3 linked regions of the Homo sapiens genome follow. The protein of the gene in region 1 purifies or fractionates together with the protein of each later gene. This does not show direct contact. Each region holds a gene or a part of one and is shown on either strand. Other genes may lie near its edges. The genes, in order: HEATR3, DGKE and UXS1.

Region 1 (3,746 bases):
GCCTTGGCCTCCCAAGTAGCTGGGATTACAGGCATGCACCGCCATGCCTGGCTAAGACCTTGTCTCTACAAAAATTAAAAAAATTAGCCAGGCATGGTGGCATGCACCTGTAGCCCTAGCTACTCAGAGGCTGCGGCAAGAGGATTGCTTGAGTCCAGGAATTTGAGGCTGCAGTGAGCTATGAACGTGCCACTGCACTCCAGCCTAGGCAACAGAGTGAGACTCTGTCTCTAAGGGGGAAAAAAAAAGACAATTGAAAACTGAAGTTTGGAAATATTCAAATAGTAAAATATACATTATTTTTAGCTCATGTACTGTTTTGGAATATCAGTATGGTTATTTCACTTTCCATAGACAATTTGATAATTAAGGTTATATAAATTTATATTACCCATTTTAAGAAATGTTGGTTGATAATGTTAAGTTTAAGTTGGCGTTATATATTTTCAGAGAAAAAAAAAGCTTCCTTCTTTCTTTAGTCTTAGAGAAATGCTTTATTATAGTCTTTACAGAAAGGCAGGAAGCAAGTCTGTCTGCTCCATAGCAAGTTCTACAGGTCACATAAGGGCTCGTTAGTAGTGTGTGTTAGCGCAGCCATTCCAAGAAAGACATCTAAGCTAAGCATCTAAAAGCAGGTTTGGTGTTTCTAAGTGCCTGGTGTCTGAAATGAACTCTTGTTTAAATCTTAGTATGCCCAGCTACTTCTTGACACAGTAGATAAGTTTCAGGGTGAATTCTGTTCAGAATTCCTGAATATTTGTCTGTTCTCTCCAGCTAACTAAGTGACGCTTGGGGAATAGCCATGCAGATAGATGGAAACCCAGTTAACGGGGGCATGCTCCACTGTACCAAGAGGAATTATAATGCTCGTTTGTACTTCTGGCACTTCATGACTTTTCTTTTACCTACCCCATTCCCCGTGTGCTCTATTCCAAGCGCAAAAATCTTCTAGTAGGCTTTCACTAAGGAAATTCCCCAAAAACATTTTCCCAACCATTGAGAGTTGGTCATTTACTTTTTTTTTTTTTTTTAAGCCCACTGACAAGGAACTGAGAGAGACTATAGCATTGCTGACAGCCCAACAGACTGCTCTGGAAATTATTGTCAACATGTGCTGCAATGAAGGTTTGTTAACATTTACATTTAGACATTTTCCCCCTGAGCCAAGAGGGAAACTCCCGTGGAGATTTTCTTAACTATTCCAGTTCTGCGTGGTTTGCCCGCTTCCCAGATCCCTCTGATGACGAATGGGAAGAGCTTTCTAGCAGTGATGAAAGTGACGCATTTATGGAGAATTCCTTCAGTGAGTGCGGGGGACAGCTGTTTTCTCCCCTCTGCCTCTCCCATGAAGTTCACACGGCTCTCACCAACTACCTCATCCCAAAGAAGGTAATCCATTTTCATTCTAGGCTTACCGTGGAGCATGGGAAAGGCTTAAGCAAGGTATTCATTTTGTGTACAAAAGAAGCAAGCTCACACTTCCAGGTTGTAGATGGTGGTAAGATCTGAGACAAAGCTGAGCCTAACAGTACTGGAAATAGGCGAAAAGGTCATTCTATATGAAGCCTAACCATTTCACTTAGGAGTAATATGTTGGAATTATGTAAGGGAATCGTGTTAAATGACTACTCTTTAACCTTTGCTTTACTGCCTCTTTTAAATCTAGATTTTTGAGAAAACTGCCTTTCCAAACAGCATTGCAGTTGACCTATGTTCTAGGAACCCTACTTGGAAACCTTTGATTAGAAAGTAAGAACTCTTCTGCTTTCAAAAACATTTGTCATTATTTTATTTTATGAAATGATGGGCTATTAAATAGAAGGTGCTGACTCCCCCTAGGACCCAGAAGTTTTGTTCCTGGGTATATATACCAGAAAAATATGTGCCCACATGCCCTAGAATACATGTATATGAGAGTGTTCATAGCAGTGTGTGTCACAGTTGCCCCAACCCATAAACAAACGTGTTGTCCATCAGAGTTAGAATGGTAAATAAATTTTGACAAAATCACGCAGTACAATACATGCAGCAGTAAAAGGGATCTGAATTAGAGCTACTCACAACTCGGATGGAACTTACATTGTTGAACCAAAAAAGCGAGACATAAAAGAATACACACACTGTGATTCAGTTTTTACAAAGTTGAGAAACAGGCAACATTGAACTATTTTGTTCAGGGATGCATACCTTGGTGATAAACCTATTAAAAAAAAAAAGAGGCAAGGAAATGTTTACCATAGAAGTCTGTATGGTGCTTACCTGTAGGTGTCAGGGAGGTGGGATATTATATGGAAGAGATACAGGGGCTTTCAGGGTCCAGCAGTGTTAATTTCTTTCCCAGGTGCATGGGTTTTGGTTTCATAGACTGTTTGTTAAACTCTCTATGTATGTTGTGTACTTAACTGTATATATGTCACATTTCACAATTAAAAATAATTTTAGGCTGGGCATGGTGGCTCACACCTATAATCCCAGGACTCTGGGAGGCCAAGGTAGGAGGATCACTTGAGGCCAGGAGTTTGAAACCAGCCTGGGCAGCATAGCAAGACCCCATCTCTACAAAGGAAAAAAAAATACAAAAATTAGCCTGGCATAGTGGCACTCAGCTGTAGTCCTAGCTACTTAGGAGGCTGAAGTGGGAGGATTGCTTGAGCTCAGCAGTCTAAGGCTGTAGTGAGCTATGATGGTGACACTGTACTCCAGCCTGGGAAACAGAATGAGACCCTGTCTGAAGAAAATTATAATTTTAAGGATGCTACCCTACATAGAAATTTTTCTAAAACATATTCCTCATGACTCATGAATGAGTTGTGTATCAGAGGCCGTGAATATTCAAGCAGTTTGATTTGGCAGATTAACAGTTCACCTTATAATTCTAGCACTTTGGAAGGTACAGGCAGGAGGATTGTTTGAGGCCAAGAGTTCCAGAGCAGCCTGGGCAACATAGCAAGACCCCTATCTACAAAAAATAAAAAACTTAGCCAGGTGTGGTTGCATGCACATGTAATCCTGCTCCTTAGGAGGCTGAGGCAGGAGGATCACTTGTGCTCAGGAGGTTGAGGCTACAGCGAGCTGTGATCACACCACTGCACTCCAGCCTGGGCAACAGAGTAAGACCCTGTCTAAAAAATGATGATAAATTTTAGAAAACACAAAAAACAGTTCACCTTGTGATTCTTTGCTAACTGCCATAGATACCTTGTATTTACAGATATTTCCAGTCAGAACGTGAAGCTTAGGCTAAAAGTTAATACTGAATTCTGATGGGCAACTTCTGGAGAATCAGATGGCATTGTTTCACTTCCTTTCCAGAATGAACACTATTCAGTGCAGAGCCCTCTTCTGTCTCCAGAGTCTTGTGTCCCTCCTGGATGTGGAGCACCTGGGAGGAGCCGCAGCCCTTCAGACGCTTGCACAGCATCTGTCACAGCTGCTTTTTTCTCAACCAGGTATTTAGACTTTATTGCGAAAGACTACGCAGACGGAACAGAATTTTGAAGGGGCAGGAATTTGGATTTTGTAAATGTATATTGTTTGTCATCCAATGTGCAGAAACCTTTCCCAGACACAGGAATCATGTATTTATAGTTGCCATGGGGTACAGAGTCAAAACGAGGTATGCAAGCAGCTCCTGGGCTTATAATTTTCTTTTTTGTTAAAATTGTTTGCATCCAGTTATATCAGGCCAGTCAAGGCTGTATCATAAATATCATAAAGGCCTCATTAAGGTATTTGGATAATTCTCA
Region 2 (3,746 bases), on another chromosome or scaffold:
TTATTCTTAAGCCTCTTTGATAATGTGTAAAATTATTTAAAATAAGACTTAAAAACAGGTATTGACATTATAATAGCGTTCATGCTAATGAAAGAATTTCTGCAAAAAAAATTAAAAAAATTAAAAAGCAGCTTCCTATTTACTGCCTATTTCATTTCTTAAGCATGTTTATGCGCCTTTCTACTTGTCAGAAATAAAACCCATTACAATGAAGATGTCCAGACTTAAGGCTCAAAGGAGGCTAAGTGTTAGTCCAGAGCTGGAAATCCTGGAGGCCAGTCCTATTTTACCAGAGTGGACCTAACGGGCTTTAATTTTCTCAACTGTGAACTGAGTTAGAATAGATCATTTGCAAAGCAGCATTCTCCTTTACCAATTTCCAACATCAGCAAAGGACATCTTCACCTATTTTCAAACAATATTTAAGGACAAAAATGTGTTGTCCAGTGTGTATATAAAAGACATTAAAATATTCTTGGCTTAATCAAGGTCACTTATCTAAGATTCTACATGTCCTGAAAGACCAAGCGTCAAAAGGAATATTCCTTTCAGTGTTCTTTTTGAGTATATTTCGCTATGGTACCAACAGCTATATTAGCAAAAGACATAAAAGTGCTGCCTTGGAATGACACTTGTTTTCACTGCACATTCATAGTACAAAACCTGTGACCCATCAGTTTTGCGGCTGAAGGGAAAAGTTAATTTGTCCATATTTCATTTTTCCTTATTTAAAATAAGGAGATAATCGATAGGAACAAAAGCTAAAATATACAGTGGCCATGAAGCAGGCACCACTTAGAAACCTCTGTATTAACGTTAGGAGCCAAGTTTTATTACCCAAAAGGGCAGGCTGGCTGAGGAGTGGAGGCTGGATGCATCGTCTCAGCAAATGACTACTGCAAAGCTGCCACGCTTGCACAAACTCAGGGATGTTTATTTATTAGCTTGTTTCCTCAAAATGAGTTTAGGTCATCAGCAGAGATTAAAGCAGGCCTCTACACCACTCTATGAAATCCTGATTCCCACGGCGCATTCTGGGACAGTGAGTGTCCACGAAGACCATACCTGTAATCGCAAAGCTTGGGTTGACAGCCACACTGCTGCTTGCAAACCATACAGTAACTGCACAGGGGCACGTTGCCCCGGATCCAGTGGTGGGGCATGGCGTCCAGGACCTTGGTGTCATTCTTGAGCATAATCTCCTTGCACTGGAAGCGCTTGTCGGCCTTCCTGAGGCAGCCCTCGTCCACGCGGAGCCCGCAGCAGTCGCAGAAGGCGCCCTGCAGAATGTGCTGCGCGCACACGCAGCAGTAGGTGGGCTGGCTGAACAGGTCCGTGTCGCGCCACCCGTGCTTGCTCTTGCGGAAGATGTCCCTGCGGTGCAGCTGCCGGCGCGACCGCTGGAGGCTACACCAGAAGGTGATGAACACCGGCAGCAGGACCGAGCACAGCGTCCACAAGATCAGGTGCCCGTCCGCAAACAGGCCCTCGGAGGGCGAGCCCGGCGCCGGCCGCCTCTCCGCTTCCATCTTCTCCAAGGACGATACCTAACCAGAAAAGAAACAGGCGGTGCACCCCGAGCTCGCCATCCCTTCCCCGCCCCCTTCCTGCCTTTCCGGGGCCAAACCGGGCGCCCTCAGTGAAGGTGGCTCCGCTCTCCCGAGGGCGGGACTGCGCCTCGTCCCCCCGTCTCCCGGGACCTGCCGCGCCGAGAAGGCGACGTCCAGCCATCACGCTCCAATCCCCACTCCCCAACCCGCCCCACCTCGGGAGCGCGTCCAGGAGCCCAAGGCGGCTGCTGCTGCCGCCGCCGCCTCACCTTGCCGCCGGTCTGACCCACGGAAGGGCGCAACATACAGGGGCAAGCTGCCCTCCACCGAAAGGCCGGGCGTTCAGGCCAGGCAACGCCGGTCGGCGCCCGTAACCGTCGGCCCAGGCCTCGCACTCCCCTCCGGGGCGCCGTCTCCTCCCGGGCCCCACCCGCTCCCACGCGCGGCCCGGCGACCCTAGCCCCTCTCGGGAGGCCTCCGGAGACCTGCGCCGCGCCGGTCCTCGAAGCCCTACCTCGCGCGGGTGGAGGCGCGGCTCCGGGCCAGCAGGCCTTGGCCGCCTCGCGCAGGAGGAGAACGACGCTGGGCCGCCAGCAGGGATGAAGCCGGGCGGGGGAAACGCTTAAGGCTCCAGCCGCACGCACGCCGATCCGGCGCGCGGGGCCGCGAGCTGGAGGCGGGGCCTGTGGCGGCGAGCCCCGTGGCTGGGCGGAGCCAGGGCTGACGGGCGGGGCGGAGGTGTGAGGTGGGAGGGGAGACGGACCGGCCTGAGGGGGCGGGGCCGTGGAGGAGGCTGGAGACGGATGGAAGAGGCAGGGCACTGCGGCTGGGGGCGGGGCCTAGGGGAAGGGGGCGGAGTAACAGTGGGGCGTTTGAGAGGATGGAGGGTTGAATGCCAAAACTTCGTAATCGTAGAAAATTCTGGAAAGCCGCCGGCGGGGCAAGGCCACGAGGATCCTCCTCGCAGCACCGCGCCGCGCGGGGCCCAGGGGCCGCGCTCACGCCCGCCGCTCGGCGCAGACACGAGTGCCCCCGACTTGAGCCGAACCTCTAGCCGATGCCGGCGCCGCCGCCGCCGGGGATGCGTAAGCCGACTGGGAAGCGAGGGGGGGAGGCGGCCTGCGCGGCACCGCCCGACCTGGCCGCGGCGGGCTGAGGTAGGTGTGGCGGCCGCAGTAACGCAAACCTGAGGGCTCCTCCGCTGCGGAGCGGCGGGCGGGCGCGGAGGCCGAGGGCGAGCGGGGCAGCCGCCCGCTCGTCGCCGCTGACCCCGAGCCCGGCCGCGGTTTCCGCCCCCTGCCGTGGCGGGCGGGCCTCCCCTGCGCTACCCCCTCGCCCGCGCCCGCCAGCGCCCGAGGCCGGGGAGAAAGGGGAGCAGCGGGAGCCGGGGACTACCGGAGATGGGAGCACGCCTCCTGCTGCTGTCGTCCAGCCCCAGGTTCCGGAGGAATGCTCGCTCCCCGCTGGAGTCCTACCAGCCCAACACGGACCTGAGCCGCGACCACGCGGGCTGCAGCCTGCAGCACATCAGCTACCCGGAGAACGCGGACGCGGAAGCACCGCTGCTCAGCACCCCCGAAGAAACACGGAATCCAGAGAGGCACAGGCACCGCCCCGGCGCGCACAGCTGCACTCAGCGGCTTCCTTCCTACTACATACATACATAGGAGTGGGAGCCGAGGACCACTTGTTGCTTGCGGACTTCCTCTAGCATAAAAGATGGAAAGAAAACACACACCGAAGCAAGGGACCAAAGGAACAGAAAAGAAACGCAGAGATCATAGGAAAACTGCAAAGAAATACTTGATAATATCTTCCAAACGATTAGAGAAGACATAACATTCATTAAGAATACACATATAGATGTATATATACGTGTATGTGTGTATGTATATATTATTATGTGTGCATATATATGCATGTGTATGTGCGTATATTTGTATTAACTGTAGAAGATAAAGCTAGACACTAGTAAAAGTGGTAAAGCAGATTTTAATAATATACTATTGTAATAGGGAAGAAGGTACCTCGTGAACGGAACTGAACTTTGTGCAGAAGTGACTAGGTGTTTAAGAGGGAGGAGGAGGGAATGTGAAGGGGATGAGCAGGAACTCAGTAGTCAGGAAAGTGAAACTTGTGAAGGGTGGGTCAGTGTAAGTAAGGTTAGGCGACAGTGCCTGTTAGATGGCTGTTATG
Region 3 (3,746 bases), on another chromosome or scaffold:
CAGGGACAACAGTAAGGACTTGGTAAGATTTCCTGGTCAGATGAATGATTGGTTAAAAAACTTTCCTGCTGGGAGCGGTGGCTTACGCCTGTAATCCCAGCACTTTGGGAGGCCGAGGCAGGCGGATCACGAGGTCAGGAGATCGAGACCATCCTGGCTAACATGGTGAAACCCCGTCTCTACTAAAAATACAAAAAATTAGCCGGGCGTGGTGGCGGGTGCCTGTAGTCCCAGTTACTTGGGAGGCTGAGGCAGGAGAATGGCGTGAACCCGGGAGGTGGAGCGTGCAGTGAGCCGAGATCGCGCCCCTGCACTCCAGCCTGGGCTGAACAGAGCGAGACTCCGTCTCAAAAAAAAAAAAAAAACTTCCCATGGCTCCATAAATCCCCTACTTTATTAATTCTAAACCCTTGCAGCGACTATAGAATACCCCCAAAATAAACATTGAAACTGCTGTTCGAAGACCTGGGTTCTAGCTCCTGCTCCCAGGCCTTTCTGGGTTCAAATTTTGGCCCTCCTTCTCTTACTATCTGTGTGATCATCCATAAATTTCCTAATCTCTCTTGGCCTTAACTTCCTCACCTCTAAAATAGGAATCATTATAGTACCGATTTCCCAGGGTTGCTCAATGATTGAGACAATGGCACTAAGAATCATGACTCACACAGTTAAGCACTCAACAAATGTAGGTAGTATTACTGCCATAATAATAGTTATTCAACTTTAAATGGTCTTTCCTCTTGGGTCTCAGCTTTCTTACTCAAGATTGACCACACACACACTTTAGACTAGTTCTTCCTCCCTTGCAAAACTACACACATCTAACACCCATCCGACGCCTGAAACCTCCCCTAGCAACCCGGAGTCCTGCTGGGGTTTTCCAGCTCCACCTCCTGAACAGCTGGGCTGTAGCACACAGGCTGGATCTACTCATACTTGCCTTCCTAGAGCTCAACTGAAGTCACTTCAGACAAGTGAAGTACCCACTCACCTCTGGAATCAGATCTTGGTAACGCCAACAGGTTAGCAGGTGATTTCATTTCAGTGTGTGTCTGGGTGGCTAGCATTCAAACGCAGCTCACACTGGGAGCTATTTCTAGTCCAATTTTGCTACTTGGTAACGTATTAATAGCATCAATTAAAACATTCCCAACGAATAGATCTTTAAAAGGACGGTTTCTGACTTCCCTAACAAGCAGAGGGCCGACCACCTGCCTGCGAAGTGCCCCTCCTGCCCTGTCTCCAGGCAGCATGCTGTGAGCGATGACAGAAACTGGACCCGCGCACAGAGAAGCTGCAGGCACGCCCTGCCCGGCCACCCAGCTGCCTGCCTGCTTCGCCCGGCCGCCGAGCCCCGGGGGAAAACCTAGAATGGGGATGCCGGTGCGCCCCGACACCTGGGCACGGCCGCGGGCCGGGGAGCCGCCCACACTTGGCTCCCCAAGAGTTAAACGCTGAGTAATTTTCCTGAGGAGCAAACAGTCGGAGCGGGGGCTCTGCCAATGGCCACAGTATTTTTATCCGACTTAACCGACACCGCGGCGCGACCTCGGCTGTCCCCAAGGGTATCCCCACGCGGCACGCTCCGGAGTCCCCGACCGGGACCCTCGCCGGCTCCCAGCGCGACATGGACGACAGCGCCGCCGCCGAGTCCCCCGCGCCCGGGCAGGAGGCAGAGACCTGGGGCCGCCCGAGGACTGCTAGGGGCCCCTCCGCCCGGGGTCCGCGCCCGGGCCTAAGCGGTAGGGGGTGTGCGCCCAAGTTGGCCCGCTTTGCTGCAAGAGTGGAAAGGGGTGGGAGCAGAAAGCGCCGGCCCCGCCCGGGGCGGGGAGCAACGCGGGGCTGCAGGGCCGCCTCGGGGCCCCGAACCACCGCCGCCCGGCCCACCGCGGCGCCGGGGAATGAATGGGGCTCCCCAGCTGGCAGCGGGCGCGCACTCACAGGCGACGTAGGCCAGCAAGGCGATGCCCAGCAGCAGCTTCATCCTCCTGCGGTTGACGGCAGACACGAGGCGCAGCAGCGCCTTGCTCACCATCCCCGGGAGCCGCGCGGGTCCAGGGCCCTACCGCGCGGGGGCCCGCCTGCTGCACAATGCGCGGCGGCGGCGGCGGCAGCGGCCCCGAGAGCCCCGCCTCCTGCCGCCGCGCGCCCCCGCCCCCGCGCGCCTGCTTCCTGCTGGCGGGATCACCGCGCAGGCGCGCCTCCACCCCCTTCCTCCGGCTCCGCCCCCGCCCCTCCGGCTTCTCTACCCGCAGGCGCAGTTGCCGCCTTTCTTGCCTTGGTTTTCGAAGAATGTGACCTGGAGGGCTGGTGGGCGGTGCGGCGCGCCGCGGCGCATGCGCGTTCCGGTCTGTTTTCCCTGAGTTAAAGCGCGCGGGTGCCAGCCGGGAGGTGCGGCTGGATTCGTTTCGCTGAGGTGCGTCCCCAACCCAAGGGCACGACTGCAGTGGCCAGTTTCCGAGCCCCGCCCGGAGGGGGGCACGCGGTGGGCATTCCGGTGTTGCAGTGAAACGAAACTTATTTGCTAAACTTGGCCGAGCCTTAGAAGTTGAATGCCTGCCTCAGAAAGTTGCCTCGTTCTCTGGGCTGTTTAGTTGGCTTTTTTTAGTTAGAATATCGGCAGCGAAAATGATAAATCCCCTAAACCTTGCCGAAGTAAAAACTGGCTGCGTTTTTTTTCCTTGGCTATGATCAACTGGGGTGCCTTTGTTTTAATAATAGTCTTTTATTATTATTTTAAAAAGCAGTGCTAAGTATATTAATTTAGGATAGACTTGGAAAAGAAAAGATGAAATTGCGCTGTCTCTGCCTAGAGAAAAACCCTGACCATGTTGTCGTGTGTGTTTCATTCAATCTTTTTGTTGAGTATATCTGTTTTATGAGTGCTGTACTGATTGCATAGGAGGTACCTGTGTTTAAAAAGCATTTACTGAATGATGATTACAAGCAAGGAGATGTATCAGAAGATCCACAGATAATCGGAAGCTTGTCATTGGATCTGGAGAGAGCTGGTCCCATGGAGGAAAAAAAGACAGGTACACACAGATGTGTGTGATGCCACATTAAGAGAGATCCCGGATTTGGGATCTGCAGGCTTCAAGAGGTCATCTTCAGCTATACGGAGAAGTTGAAGTCAGCAGCGGCTCTCCTACCTCTTGGAACCTCAGGCCATTTTGCAAAACTTAATAGATCACCCTCCTTTAGATTTATTAGAAACCTCCAAGAAAAGGAAATATGGCAGCTGGTACTAAAGCAGCAGCTTTATGTTACATCTTTCAAACTATAGTGCAAATGATGTGATTCTGATAAAACCTACCTCCATCCTACCCCTCCCCTAAACCTGTTGAGAATCCCTGACTAGGAGGAAACACTGAGCGGTTTGCTAAGGCGGATTGCCCCTGCTATGCATGCTGCCCATAGATGGAGTGGACTTCTTTCGAGAAGCCCAGCTCCCTGACTCTGACGTGTCCAAGGAGGCTGCCAAGTGACAAAACACCTGGCATGGGAGCCTGAGTCCTGGGTTCCCAGAGGGGCCAGGCCCCCAGAGCACACCAGTTTGGAACAAATCGATTTTGTTTGTAAGTCTGCATTTCCTCGTGGCTTTCTGGCTATGGTTTTTGAAAAGAGAACTAGAGCAAGTGGAGCTCTAGGCCTTTCCCATTCCATGACTCCGTGGTTTTTAGATTAAAGATGAGGAGCAGAAATGGAAGAAAATAATAGTTCATTAACATTTGACCTATGGGCAA

Evidence for each region.
Region 2: the proteins of HEATR3 (region 1) and DGKE purify together in Homo sapiens (co-immunoprecipitation; 2 studies listed by BioGRID and IntAct, with this or other methods). This does not show direct contact.
Region 3: the proteins of HEATR3 (region 1) and UXS1 purify together in Homo sapiens (co-immunoprecipitation; 3 studies listed by BioGRID and IntAct, with this or other methods). This does not show direct contact.

The regions. Positions count from the first base shown.
Region 1 is NC_000016.10:50,082,903-50,086,648, forward strand, and holds part of HEATR3 (HEAT repeat-containing protein 3), read left to right. Parts: intron 1-1,034; coding exon 1,035-1,125; intron 1,126-1,205; exon of another isoform or gene 1,206-1,231; coding exon 1,232-1,389; intron 1,390-1,666; coding exon 1,667-1,749; intron 1,750-3,312; coding exon 3,313-3,449; intron 3,450-3,746. UniProt on the Homo sapiens protein: Plays a role in ribosome biogenesis and in nuclear import of the 60S ribosomal protein L5/large ribosomal subunit protein uL18 (RPL5). Required for proper erythrocyte maturation.
Region 2 is NC_000017.11:56,832,579-56,836,324, reverse strand, and holds the start of DGKE (diacylglycerol kinase epsilon), read right to left. Parts: upstream 2,175-3,746; 5' UTR 2,065-2,174; exon of another isoform or gene 1,856-2,064; coding exon of another isoform or gene 1,820-1,855; intron 1,548-1,819; coding exon of another isoform or gene 1,530-1,547; coding exon 1,066-1,529; intron 1-1,065. UniProt on the Homo sapiens protein: Membrane-bound diacylglycerol kinase that converts diacylglycerol/DAG into phosphatidic acid/phosphatidate/PA and regulates the respective levels of these two bioactive lipids.
Region 3 is NC_000002.12:106,192,207-106,195,952, forward strand, and holds the start of UXS1 (UDP-glucuronic acid decarboxylase 1), read right to left. Parts: upstream 2,096-3,746; 5' UTR 2,036-2,095; coding exon 1,942-2,035; exon of another isoform or gene 1,068-1,941; coding exon of another isoform or gene 992-1,067; intron 1-991. UniProt on the Homo sapiens protein: Catalyzes the NAD-dependent decarboxylation of UDP-glucuronic acid to UDP-xylose. Necessary for the biosynthesis of the core tetrasaccharide in glycosaminoglycan biosynthesis.